3 separate regions of the Homo sapiens genome follow, and regions 1 and 3 are each reported to be linked to region 2. The links are microRNA targets in miRTarBase. Many come from high-throughput screens and were not tested one by one. Region 2 holds a microRNA gene; each other region holds the end of a gene's coding sequence.
The links. Region 2 holds the annotated microRNA hsa-miR-4712-3p (AAUGAGAGACCUGUACUGUAU, at 2,807-2,827, shown strand). A microRNA usually pairs through its seed, bases 2 to 8, with sites in the 3' UTR of a target mRNA and lowers its output. Matches are read on the target gene's strand: a 7mer-m8 pairs with bases 2 to 8, a 7mer-A1 pairs with bases 2 to 7 and ends in A, and an 8mer does both.

Region 1 (3,752 bases), not on the chromosome of region 2:
TGATAATTCTTTCAAGACACAGTCTTTTCTCACACCCAATATAACACTAATTTTTCTAGTCATATTATTTTCTCCAAATTTATGCCACATGCTTAGTAATTCTGAGATTTAAGTAATCTGGCTACATATTACTCTTAATACTGACACATAAAGAGACTTTAGCTAGTACATCTGTATACATTTCAATGTGTTGCTCTGGTCTATGGCCATACCACCCTGAATGCACCCAATTTTGTTAATATGTTGCATTGCTAAAAGGACTTTTTATTGGAATAGAAGAGAAGCGTTCTTCTAAAGTGTATGGCAGGTGTGTGTGTGTGTGTACATACACATGTGTACATACACATATATTTTCCCTCTGACAATGCACCCATCATATGTAATATTTGCATACAAGGTAATACTGGCCCCAGGAAGAATCAGTATCTTACAGAGGGTAAGGCACAACTGAAACACAGAGCAAAGATCTAGATACAACCAGATTTACTTGTTTCTGGTTTCTTAAAATTTCAAGTACAAAGAAACTAGGAATGGTAACTTATAAATAAAAGAAACAAGAGAAGGGAGGATAAGAAAATAAAGGATAATCGAAAGGACTGTTGGAAACCAACATGACAAGTGATGGGTGTCTTCATTCACCAATGGCTCAATGAAATTGATGTAGATAATTCTGATGTTGTTAGTGGTCAAAGTGGGCCATAGAGAGGCAGAGAAGGAATGTTATAGGGAAAGAATTTATGATCCAAAAGGTGGTCCTCTATGACGTAAGACTTTGATTGCTTTTTTTGGCCCATCAATCATAAAATGATTATTATTTCTTTTCAGGATAGTCACAGGGTGAAATTATGAAGCTTTCATCAGAACCTATATAATTTTTTTTCTGAATAGGCTCAATGTAATCAATTTTAAGTTTAAAGGTTAATTTTGGAAAGCCCAAAATTTCTCAATTCCAACTCTGGTGAATAAGTGGCTACTCAAATGGTAAAACTAAAGTGTAAGAGTAATAGAGGGTTTTCTCATATGGTTTATTAAATGGGAATTCTAAGAGTGTTCCAAATATTTGGAAGAATATAGTAGTATGGAATAATAGTACTTGGGAATAACAAGTGACAACCCACATTGGATGCGTAAGTTCTGGCATGTTACTTTAAACCAGTCTCATTACTTTATATAGTATTCCTTGGTATAACAAAAGCCTCAAAGATGAAATATAGTGCCTGGTGATACTGAGTTTAAGAGTACATCTTTGTTGGTAGATTATAGACATGGATTACAGATGGAGTGCACCAGAGTTCAAAAGAATGAAAACCTGTGAGGTAAGGTATTAGATTACCACTGTGGATATTAAAGTCATATAAACTAATGGCAAGAAACAGATGGAGAATAACGAGTGAGGTGCTGAGGCCATCTAAAGAGATGGGTGCAAGGTAATGATAGGAGTGACAGACCATCTAGTCAGGGAGTTTGCACAGGCTGTTAAGAACCTGAGAAAGCAGTATTGTAATGGGCCAAAAAAGATGAGTATACATTCTTTGTAAGGTTTTTATCTTCCTAAAGCATCTTCGTCTCCTTCTCCTACCTGATGCCATAACTAGGATAGTGCCAACTATCTGTACCACAGTGTACAGTGGGGAGGTGGAAGGAGAGTCAGAAGTCACCAAAATGTATAACTATCCAAGCTCAAGAGCAGCTGGGCTGAGTCTCCACTCACCTCTTTCTCTGTATTACTCCCATAACCATTACTAATGTGTCCACTTTCTTTACTGACACAGGTGCTGGGACTGGGGGTGGTGAAGGATATGTACAGATGCTCAATGACTCAATGGAGTCAGTGAAGGTGATACATGAAGAAAAATGCTGGAGTGCTGTTAAAAATATAGCATTCTGAGTTTGTATGGGAATACAAATTTCCACTGACTAGAAGGAATATTAGAATAAAAAAATGCACACTTAAGCATAAATACTTTAAGTGTCTGTAAAATTTTCCTAGAAAGCTACATACAAATATAAGTTTCACACAGAAGCTACTTCTGACTCTACAGCAGCTTCTTAGATCAGATTAGGAATACAAGGGCACCTTCAAGGGAATAAATGGGAGAGGGGGATCACAGGAGATGGGAAGAAGCACAGGAACTAGGAGTAGCCAGCCTCTCTCAAACCTATAGCTACTCACCCAAAAGACAAAGTTAAGCTCTTCAAGCCATGACAAGCAACTTGCTCTAATGCTATTTTAAATTTCTAAAGGATACATTAGGTCATCAGGAGCTCCATCAGATACTTTCAAAGACAGTCAAGCTAATCAACCTTCACCAAGGCACTGGGCCCAAATTACTAAAGAGCTATCCTAACTTTGCCACCACTATAGATTCTGACACTAAAGTTGTGATGACCTTTCTGCCTTTTAGTACACTGAAAGACCTCTCACCAGTGTGTGGTTTCCCTAATGCTGAATAATGCTCAAACTCTAACTGATGTTGTTCCTAAACGCTTATGGATTCAGATTTTTCACCACTGTGGATTCTCTGATGTCGAATGAGACTTGACCTCTGAATAAAGGCTTTCCCACACTCATTACATTGGTAGGGCTTCTCCCCTGTGTGAATTCTCAGGTGTTGAATGAGACCAGTGTTCCCATTGAAAGCTTTCCCACATTCTTTACATTTATAGGGTCTTTCTCCAGTGTGGATTCTCTGATGTTCAATAAGGCCTGACTTCTGACTGAAGGCCCTCCCACACTCATTGCATTTGTAGGGTTTCTCCCCAGTGTGGCTCCTCTGATGACCAATAAGATGTGAGCTCCGCCTGAAGGTTTTCCCACACTCATCACACTCATAGGGCTTCTCCCCAGTGTGGATTCTCTGATGTCCAATGAGGTGTGAGCTATGACTGAAAGCTTTCCCACACTCATTACATTCATAGGGTCTCTCTCCACTGTGGATTCTCTGGTGCAGAATAAGGCCCGCACTCTGACTGAAAGCCTTCCCACACTGATTGCACTGATATGGCTTCTCCCCAGTGTGGATTCTCTGGTGCAGAATCAGGCCTGTGTTCTGACTGAAGGCTTTGCCACACTCCTTACAGTGATAGCGTTTTACTTTGTTGTGGATATCCTGATGTGAAAGAAGGGCTGACCTGTAACTGAAGGCTTTACCACACACATTACACTGATAGGGTTTCTCCCCAGTGTGGATTCTCCAGTGGCGAACAAGGCCTGAGCTCTGAGCAAAGCTTTTCCCACATTCATCACATTTATGTCGTCTCTCTTGTGTGGGATTTCCCCGCTGCCTCTCTAATCTGCCCAGAAGGTCTCGGGCTTCTTCATGCTCAAGACCCCTGATAACATCCCCGTTGCATTTGGCAGCTGTCTCTCCATGTGGCTGGATTCCAGTAGATATTACCTGTTTTGAAGCTAATTCCCTGTTCTCACTCCTGGTCTCACCACCTGAAATAAAAATGTAATAAACAAACATCAAGCCAATGTCACAACCTATTCTTTATGCTAGGAGAAAGGAACTGAAGATAGGGGAAAAGGAAAGTACACATGAACAGCTATAAGTAAACACAAAACTTCTGTCTCCAAAATAGCTTCTTAATAGTGACCTTGCTTAATATGAGCTAGTCAACTGGGAAAGAGGTACCATTAAAAAAAGAGAGTTAATTGGAAGGGGAACTAAAGTCAGGAAAGGATGAACTGAAGTGAGGTGAAAGTTGGGGAGAGGAATATGGAACTACTAAAAGAACTAATGAGCAGG
Region 2 (4,770 bases):
CTCCGGAGGCTGAGGCAGGAGAGTAGCTTGAACCCAGGACACGGAGGCTGCAGTGAGCCGAGATTGCGCCACTGCACTCCAGCCTGGGCGACTGAACGAGACTCCGCCTCAAAAAAAAAGAGTTTGTGAGGAAAATTAAAAGCTGATTGGATAAAGTGTTACTCTGGGGAAAAGAGAGCAAACTTTTGGTGGTTGGTTGATCAGAGATGGCCTCACTGAGAAGGTATTAGAAAGGACAAGAACAGTGTGAGACCAAAGGGAATAGCTGGGCAAAGGCCCTAAGGTGAAAAATTTGTTGTGTTTAGGGAATAGCAAGGTCAGTGTATCCGAAATCTAGTGACCAAAAGAAGGAATGATAGGAGGTGAAGTCTTCAGCCTCAATAAGAAGGTGAAGTGCACTGGAAGCCATTGAAGGATTTAAGAAATGGAGTATCTGGCCGGGCGCGGTGGCTCACGCCTGTAATCCCAGCACTTTGGGAGGCCGAGGTGGGAGGATCAAGAGGTCAGGAGATGGAGACCATCCTGGCTAACATGGTGAAACCCCGTCTCTATTCAAAATAAAAAATTTTTTTAAAAATTAGCCAGGCGTGGTGGCGGGCGCCTGTAGTCCCAGCTACTCGGGAGGCTGAGGCAGGATAATGGCGTGAACCCAGGAGGCAGGGCTTGCAGTGAGCCGAGATCGTGCCACTGCACTCCAGCCTGGGCGACAGAGCGAGACTCCGTCTCAAAAAAAAAAAAAAAAAAAAAAGAAATGGAGTATCATGGACTAGGATAGTAGCAGTAGAGATGAGGGAAGTGGATGGATCCAAAAAGCTGACCTATCTTGCTTACCAATTAAATGAGGAAAGGGAGGAATCAATAGTGATGCCTAGGTTTGGGGCATGTTGTCTAGGTGGAATTAATTTTAATTACACTTTTAACCCCTAGCATATCCAAATATTATTTCACATGTGATCAACATAAAAAATTACTAAATATTAAAAATATTTTACATTATCTTTCTCATAACTAAGCATTTGAAATCTGGTGTGTATTTTATACTTATAGCATATCTCAGTACTTGATTTCATAAAATTTCCAGCTGAAAAAATAGATTCACGTACCCAAGTCGTTCCAAGCATACTTAAAAGTTTTACGGTAATCGAATCGTGTATATTTTTAAATTTTATTTTAAATTAAAGTTAGGATTATGAATTCAGTTCCTAAATTAGCCTCATTTCACTTCTGCATTTCAAGTGGGACAAGTTATTACCATATTGGACAATGCAGTCTAGTGAAGTAGAGGATAGTGGAAAGTCAGACTTAAAAAGTTGTTTAGAACCAGCTCTGGAAGGCCTTGGATGTCAGATTAAAGGACTGAGATTTTACCCTTGAGTCAGGCAGAATAATGGATGGTTTTTGAACTAAGGAGTGACACAAGGTTGTGCTTATGACTAGAAGGAGGCCACTAGGTGGCCAGCTGGTGAGTCAGGACACCCTTCAGTTGCTTTGACTTCAGCCCTGTGGATTCAAAGTCTGATTTTTGTCAGCGCTCTAGAGCAGTCTCACCAAAAGTGTGGTCCACAAGGCAGTGCCAGTCTGTAAGCCCTTTGTTACACATCCATGTCAAGGCATTTACAGAAAGTAAGAATTTAGAAACTTATAGCAGTTTAACAGACTAATTTTATTTCTGTGGGTCTAATAAAAATTTGAGGGATTGTACTTTGCATATTCTTTATTTCCCTTTTTTTGTTTGTTTTTTGTGTTCGAGATGGGAGTCTTTTTCTGTCGCCAGGCTGGAGTGCAGTGGTGCAGTCTCGGCTCACTGCAACCTCTGCCTCCTGGGTTCAAGCGATTCTCCTGCCTCAGCCTCCCAAATAGCTGGGATTACAGGTGTGCACCACCACATCCAGCTAATTTTTGTATTTTCAGTAGAGACGGGGTTTCACCATGTTGGCCAGGATGGTCTTCATTGCCTGACCTTGTGATCCGCCTGCCTCAGCCTCCCAAAGTGCTGGGATTACAGGCGTAAGCCACCGTGCCCGGCCCTTTTTTCCTTTTTAGTTTATTTTTTTCTTTTTTGAGACAGAGTTTCGCTCTTATTGCCCAGGCTGGAGTGCAATGGTGCGATCTTGGCTCACCGCAACCTCTGCCTCCTGAGTTGAAGCGATACTCCTACCTCAGCCTCCCAAGTAGCTGGGATTACAAGCATGCACCACCATACCCTGCTAATTTTGTATTTTTAGTAGAGACGGGTTTCTCCATGTTGGTCAGGCTGGTCTCGAACTCCCAACCTCAGGTGATCTACCTGCCTTGGCCTCCCAAAGCGCTGGGATTACAGGTGTGAGCCACTGCACCCGGCCGTTTTTTTCTTTTTCTAATAATTTTTATCATATTACATAAAAGTACCTATGGTCTCACAGATGAAGGGAGTCAGAAGAACCAAACTCCCAGAAGACATATAAATCTAAATGCCTTTTTTACTTTAGAGTGAAAACTGTAATAGCTAAATTATAATGGACATCTGCTCATTTTCTCCCTCCATGTAGACATGGAAAGCTACACGGAAATAACCGAGTTTATAGTAGCTACCATATATTAAACGTTTCCTGTATGCCAGCCACTGTGCAAAGCATATTATATATATTGTCTCATTTAATCCTCACAACTCTGTAAAATAAGTATTGTTTGCCCCATTTTTCCAATGAAGAAACCGAGGCTAAAATAGGTTGAATAACTTACCTAAATTCACCATCCTCAAAGGTGTTAAAGACAGGATTCCAGTACAGGTCTCTCATTTCCTTCATGATTAGGAATACTACTTTGAAATGAGAGACCTGTACTGTATCTGTTAATTCCAAATTCCCTGGCATAAAGACTCAGTACATTGTTTAAAGAGAATGCATGAAGTTAACTGCATTACCTTTTGGAGGGTTCATTTGTGAATTTGGGGCCAAAGTAAGGGGAGTTACTGGTATTCTAATAGCATCAAACAAATGAATTCATTTCATCTTTTGGGGAGGTGGAGGGAATAAGGTCTCACCTTGTCGCCCATGCAGGCTGGAAGGCCGTGATGTGATCTCAGCTCACTGCAGCCTCAACCTGGGCTCAAGCGATCCTCCCACCTCAGCCTCCTGAGTAGCTGGGACTACAGGTGCACACCACCACGCCCAGCTCATTTTTGTATGTTTTGTAGAGACTGTGTTTTGCCACGTTGCCCAGGCTATTCTCAAACTCCTGAGCTCAAGTGATCCTCCCACCTCAGCCTCCCAAAGTGCTGGGATTACAGATGTAATCCACCACACCCAGCCAAATGCATTCATGTCTACAATAGAAATACATCTCTTTGCTGCTATCTTGAATTTGTAGACTCCCACAAATCAATAAAAAAGAAGACATCCAATAAAAAAATGGGTAGAGGCCAGGCAGTGGCTAACACCTGTAATCCAAGCACTTTAGGAGGCCCAGGCAGGCAGATCACTTGAGGTCAGAAGTTCAAGACCAGCCTGGCCAACATGACAAAACCCTGTCTCTACTAAAAATATAAAAATTAGCCAGACGTAGTGGCACGTACCTGTAATCACAACTACTCGGGAGGCTGAGACAGGAGAATTGCTTGAACCCAGGAGGCAGAAGTTGCAGTGAGCCAAGATCGTGCCACTGCACTCCAGCCTGGGCGACAAAGCAAGACTCCATCTCAAAAAAAAAAAAAAAAAAAAAGGTAGAAACTTAAACAGTCACCTCACAAAAAAGGGTATCTAAATATTAGTTTCTTAAAAAATATAAAAGGGGCGTGTAGATGGCCGATAAACATGTAAAAGATACTCAACTAATTTAATCATTAGAGAAATGCAAATTAAAACCTAAATGATATTTTAATCTCACATCCAACAGAATGGCTAAAATGGAAAACCCAGAAAATGCCAGATGTTGGTCAAGAGTTGGAGTAACTGAAACTACACAGCTGCTGGAAATGTATATTGGTATAACCACTTTGGAAAATGGGAAGTTCAACAAACAGGCAAACCAATCTAGATTTAGGGATATATGTTTAGGTAGTAAAAGTATAAAGAAAAGAAATAGTTAGCTTTGCAGGGAGTAGTGCTTGGGAGGTAATAGGTGCTTCTGGAGTGCTGTTGATGTTCTGTTCCTAAGTAGGGTGCTATGGCTTGAGTTTGGTTTGTCTGACCCTACCAAGTCTCATGTTAAAATTTCATCCCCAGTGTTGGAGGTGAGGCCTGGTGGGAAGGGTTGTGGGAGTGGATTTCTCATGAGTGGCTTCGTATTCTGTAAGGAGTGAGTTCATTAAGAGACTGGCACCTCCTCTCTCCTTTCTCTCGCCATGTGATCTCTGCATATGTCATCTCCTGTCTGCCTTCCACCGTGAGCAGCCTGAAGCCCTCACTGGAAGCAGATACTGCTACCATGCTTCTTGTACAGCCTGCAAAACCGTGAGCCAAATAAGCCGAACATTCTAAGACACTGGGATTACATGAGTGTTAGCACTCTATGACTTAATGAGAAGTAGGTTTTTTGGAGAAAAATGTACTTTCAGTATGTATATTATATATTTCATGGTTATTTTTAAAACTCGTGAGCAATGCTGGATACACACTACCAACTATTACTTCCCTGACTGAGCCAATTTTTCTGTAAATGCATCACAAATGTGAAAGATAAGGTAGGCCTGAATTCTGGGGAATGACAATGGTGAAGGAAAGGCGAGACAGGTGCAAAAGACACTGCAGAACTCAGGCTCAAAATCTCATCCTTAACTCCTTCCCTCATCCC
Region 3 (3,752 bases), not on the chromosome of region 2:
AACCTGCACGTTGTGCACATGTACCCTAAAACTTAAAGTATAATAATAAAAAAGAAAAAAAAAAAAAGAATGTGGTACATACACACCAATGGAATACAACACAGCCATAAAAAAGAAAAACAAATGTCCTTTGCAGCAACACGGATGGAGCTAGAGGCCATTATCCTAAATGAACACAGAAGCAGAAAATCAAATATCACGTTCTCATTTTTAAGTGGGAACTAAACAAAAGTGACATGCGGACACAAATATGGACGAAATGGACTCTGGGGACTCCAAAGTGTGGAGGGTAAGATAGGCATGAGGGTTGAAGTTACCTACTGGGTCCGGTGTCCAATATTTGGGTGATGGATATGCTAGAAGCTCAACCCTCACCATCACACATAATACCCTTGTAACAAAGCAGCACATGTACCCCAAATCTAAAATTGTAAAAACTCCATCCTAAAACCGTTAACAGGAGTTAGGTCTAGGTCATACTTACCTCTGAAACTGGAAAGATATTTGTGAACTTGAGATTTTTCTAAAGACAACAATCAGTAAGGGCTTTGAAATATATGAAGGCAAGGTATGGCTATTTTCTTCAATATAGTAGTTTGCATATTTTTACCTTTTTAATATTTTTTATTGGCCAATCTGTTTTAAGGTCTTTGGAGAAAATATGCCTAACTCCATGCCATCTGGCCCCTCAGGATAAACTCACCTGTCCCACCACATCCTTTGTGGGTTGTCATATGCTCTCCTGCTCCACCTACCTCAGTTGTGAGGATTACAATTAATGTGTGATAAAGCACTTAAAAAAAATCACACAGCAGATGGTATTGCTATTCAATCAGTGTAATTCTAATACCACATTCTTCCAGTTTTAATCACATCTACAAATATTAAAATATTGAGACAAATTCTTACATGTCTCAACTTCCCCCCCCCCTTCCCACAAAATTGTTTGGTCTATCAGTGTTTCTTTAAAAATCCTTTGCTCCTTTATGGGAATGTCCCTCCATGTTAGCACAGATGTCCAATAAAAACTCAACCTGTTGGTCTCTTACTTCTTGTGTATTCTGCTACATACGGATGCAGTATTAACAGCCTCCAAATCTAGAGTTGCCTTTAAACCAGCGAACTCAGTCCATACTTACACCCATTCTCATTCTCTTATCCACTTACCCAAAACAAAAAACCCTTAAAAAAAAAAAAAACCCAATCAATAACAATACTTAAGTCTAACCATACTCTTCTTCAGAGAAATTACCTTACAAAGCATTGGAAAGAGGTGCTGAGAACCAGCCAGGGCAGCACAGCAAAACCTGTCTCTACAATTAAAAAAAAAAAAAAAATCAACCAGGCATGATGCCATGCACCTATAGTCCCAGCTACTTGGGAGGGTGAAAGAATCGCTTGAGCCCAGGAGGCAGAGGCTGTAGTGAGCCGTGATCACACAACTGTACTCTAGCCTGAAGGACAGAGTGAGATCCTGTCTTGAAAAAAAAAGATACTTAGAGCACATCATCTTGCAACTTTAAAATATGACTTTTTCAAGCTTAAAAACATCATACAACATAGAGACCAGCCTGGCCAACATGGCAAAATCCCATTCTCTACTAAAAATACAAAAATTAGCCGGGCATGGTGGTGGACTACCATGTAATCCCACCTACTCGAAAAGCTGAGGCAGAAGAATCATTAGAAACTGCAAGGTGGAGGTTGCAGTGAGCCAAGATCGCACCACACTGCACTCCAGCCTGGTGGACAGAGTGAGGCTCCATCTCAAAAAAAAAAAAAACACATCACAGAAAGCATCGTAATTTTTTTCAATGCAAGAGACAGCACTTAGACTACACCAAATTAAATGAGTACTAGTTTATGGCATTTTCACTAAACAAAATTAAATGGGTAAATTAAATCCCAAGCAACTGGGATTATAGGCGCCCACCACTATGCCCAGCTAATTTTTGTATTTTTAGTAGAGATGGGGTTTCACCATGTTGCCCAGGCTGGTCTTGAACTCCTGACCTCAAGTGATCCACCTGCCTTGGCCTCCCAATATTAGGATTACAGGCATGAGCCACCGCACCCAGCCATGATTGAGTGTTCTTATGGCCCAGCAACAAAACCAAAAGATTAATATATGGCGTGTTTATCACATTTGACTTGGACTTATATTAATCAAGATAATTATTTCAAAAATGTAGATGGCCAATCATTAAGCTGGAAAATGCCATATTGAAAATAATCATTAATTTCCATTAAGTAGAGTTCAAACAGAATACACACATATAAGACATAAGAACCAAGTAATTGTTCAAATTTTTATTTTAATGCACAGTATGAGAAATGAACTTTTTTAAATCAACTGATTTGTATGGAAAATGACACGGCAAATAAATTAGACCTATGTTAAAGCGAAGGTCAGCTAAATATCCAAACTTAAGGATATAATGGGCACCGATAAACAGATTCCACAGTCTTCTTTAATAGAGTATCTTTCAAACACAACTTTGCTAGAAACTGGTCCAAAGATCGACAGCACGTGGGAATGCTTAACAGGGGTGGTGATCAGGGACACGTTTCCTATGAGAGTAAGAAAAAAGTCAATAGTGAAAAATGAAGAGCATGATTTTATCCAAAGTATTATACTAAATACAAACACAACTAGAATCCTGTATTAAAACTGTTATAACTCTGCAATGGTTTGCATGTGTGTCCCCTATAACACTCACATTGAAACTGAATCCCCAATGTGGCAGTATTGGAAGTTGGGCTTTTAAGAGGTGACCAAGTTATGTCATGGACTAATGGGTTATATAGGATGGGACTGCTGGCTTTAGGTGAGGAGGAAGACAGACCTGAGCTAGCCACTCAGCCCCCTCCTCTGTGTGATGCCCTGCACCACATCAGGACTGTTCTGCCTTGGGACTCTGCAGACACCCCCACCAACAAGAAGCACCTTCTATTCTCATCTTTTATTCTTTGATGACCATACAATAAGGGGGCATAGAACAATCTTTTGGAAAGATGGGATAAGGGTACTAGTAAATTTGTACTTAATGCTTGTTCAAGGATCTAAAGCTTGAGAAACACTGCTTTTAGAGGCAAACACAACAGTTACGAGAAGCTGAAGAAGCTTAAGAACAGATCAAAGAGTACAGCATTATACAGGGATCATATAGAGAGATAAACTTTTCACCCTTGGTAGCTTATGGGGGGACTAGGATGCTAACCATTGTCAAGAGTTATGAAGCAGCTGTCACAGGGCACTGATCTGAAAAAAAAAGTCTTCTGGAGATTAATAAGGAATATGAAAAAGAAGCCCATGGTCTGGTAGGTCTGGAAGGCTGAGTTAAAATTCAGTTTCTTTATTGCAAATTACTCAGAATTTGCTAATAAAAGATACCTGATCTCTAAAACAGTATCAGACCAAACAAGGTATTATACATTTTTTAAGCGTTATTTCAACTGTGGGTGAGGGCACTGACTTCTTGTGAAGATTTCTGGGAGTAGGTGTGGCTATATGACCTTGCCCTAGAACACTTTAGTTACAGAACTCAGTTTCCTTTTGCTATCATTCTGTTTAAAGACAATAGAAAGCATCACAGCATCTACTGTCCTCAGTACTTGACCTTTCCAAGCATGGCTCTTTCTGTGCCTTTTCAATCCTAAGAGCTACCTCAGCTGCCCATCCCTCTTTCCCCTTAAGTTTTTCTGGCTTAAGTGTTAAGAGTTGTGATATTTTAAATAACTTACATACTTTT

Region 1: miRTarBase lists ZKSCAN8 as a target of hsa-miR-4712-3p. The part of its 3' UTR that is shown has no 7-base or 8-base seed match.
Region 3: the mRNA of CCT2 is a reported target of hsa-miR-4712-3p. Seed matches in the 3' UTR shown: 7mer-A1 at 2,327-2,333.

Annotation. Positions count from the first base shown.
Region 1 is chr6:28,152,746-28,156,497 of GRCh38, reverse strand. It overlaps ZKSCAN8 (zinc finger with KRAB and SCAN domains 8), which reads right to left. Exons shown (of 6, transcript NM_006298.4): 6 at 1-3,442. The coding sequence ends at 2,481. Among named protein-coding and RNA genes, the nearest start is that of ZKSCAN8, 13 kb to the right of the region's middle.
Region 2 is chr15:50,357,579-50,362,348 of GRCh38, forward strand. It overlaps MIR4712 (microRNA 4712), which reads left to right and starts at 2,751; the gene lies at 2,751-2,832. It overlaps GABPB1-AS1 (GABPB1 antisense RNA 1), which reads left to right. Exons shown (of 1, transcript NR_024490.1): 1 at 1-734.
Region 3 is chr12:69,600,114-69,603,865 of GRCh38, reverse strand. CCT2 (chaperonin containing TCP1 subunit 2) reads right to left here. Exons shown (of 16, transcript NM_006431.3): 16 at 2,296-2,571. The coding sequence ends at 2,541. Among named protein-coding and RNA genes, the nearest start is that of LRRC10, 8.9 kb to the left of the region's middle.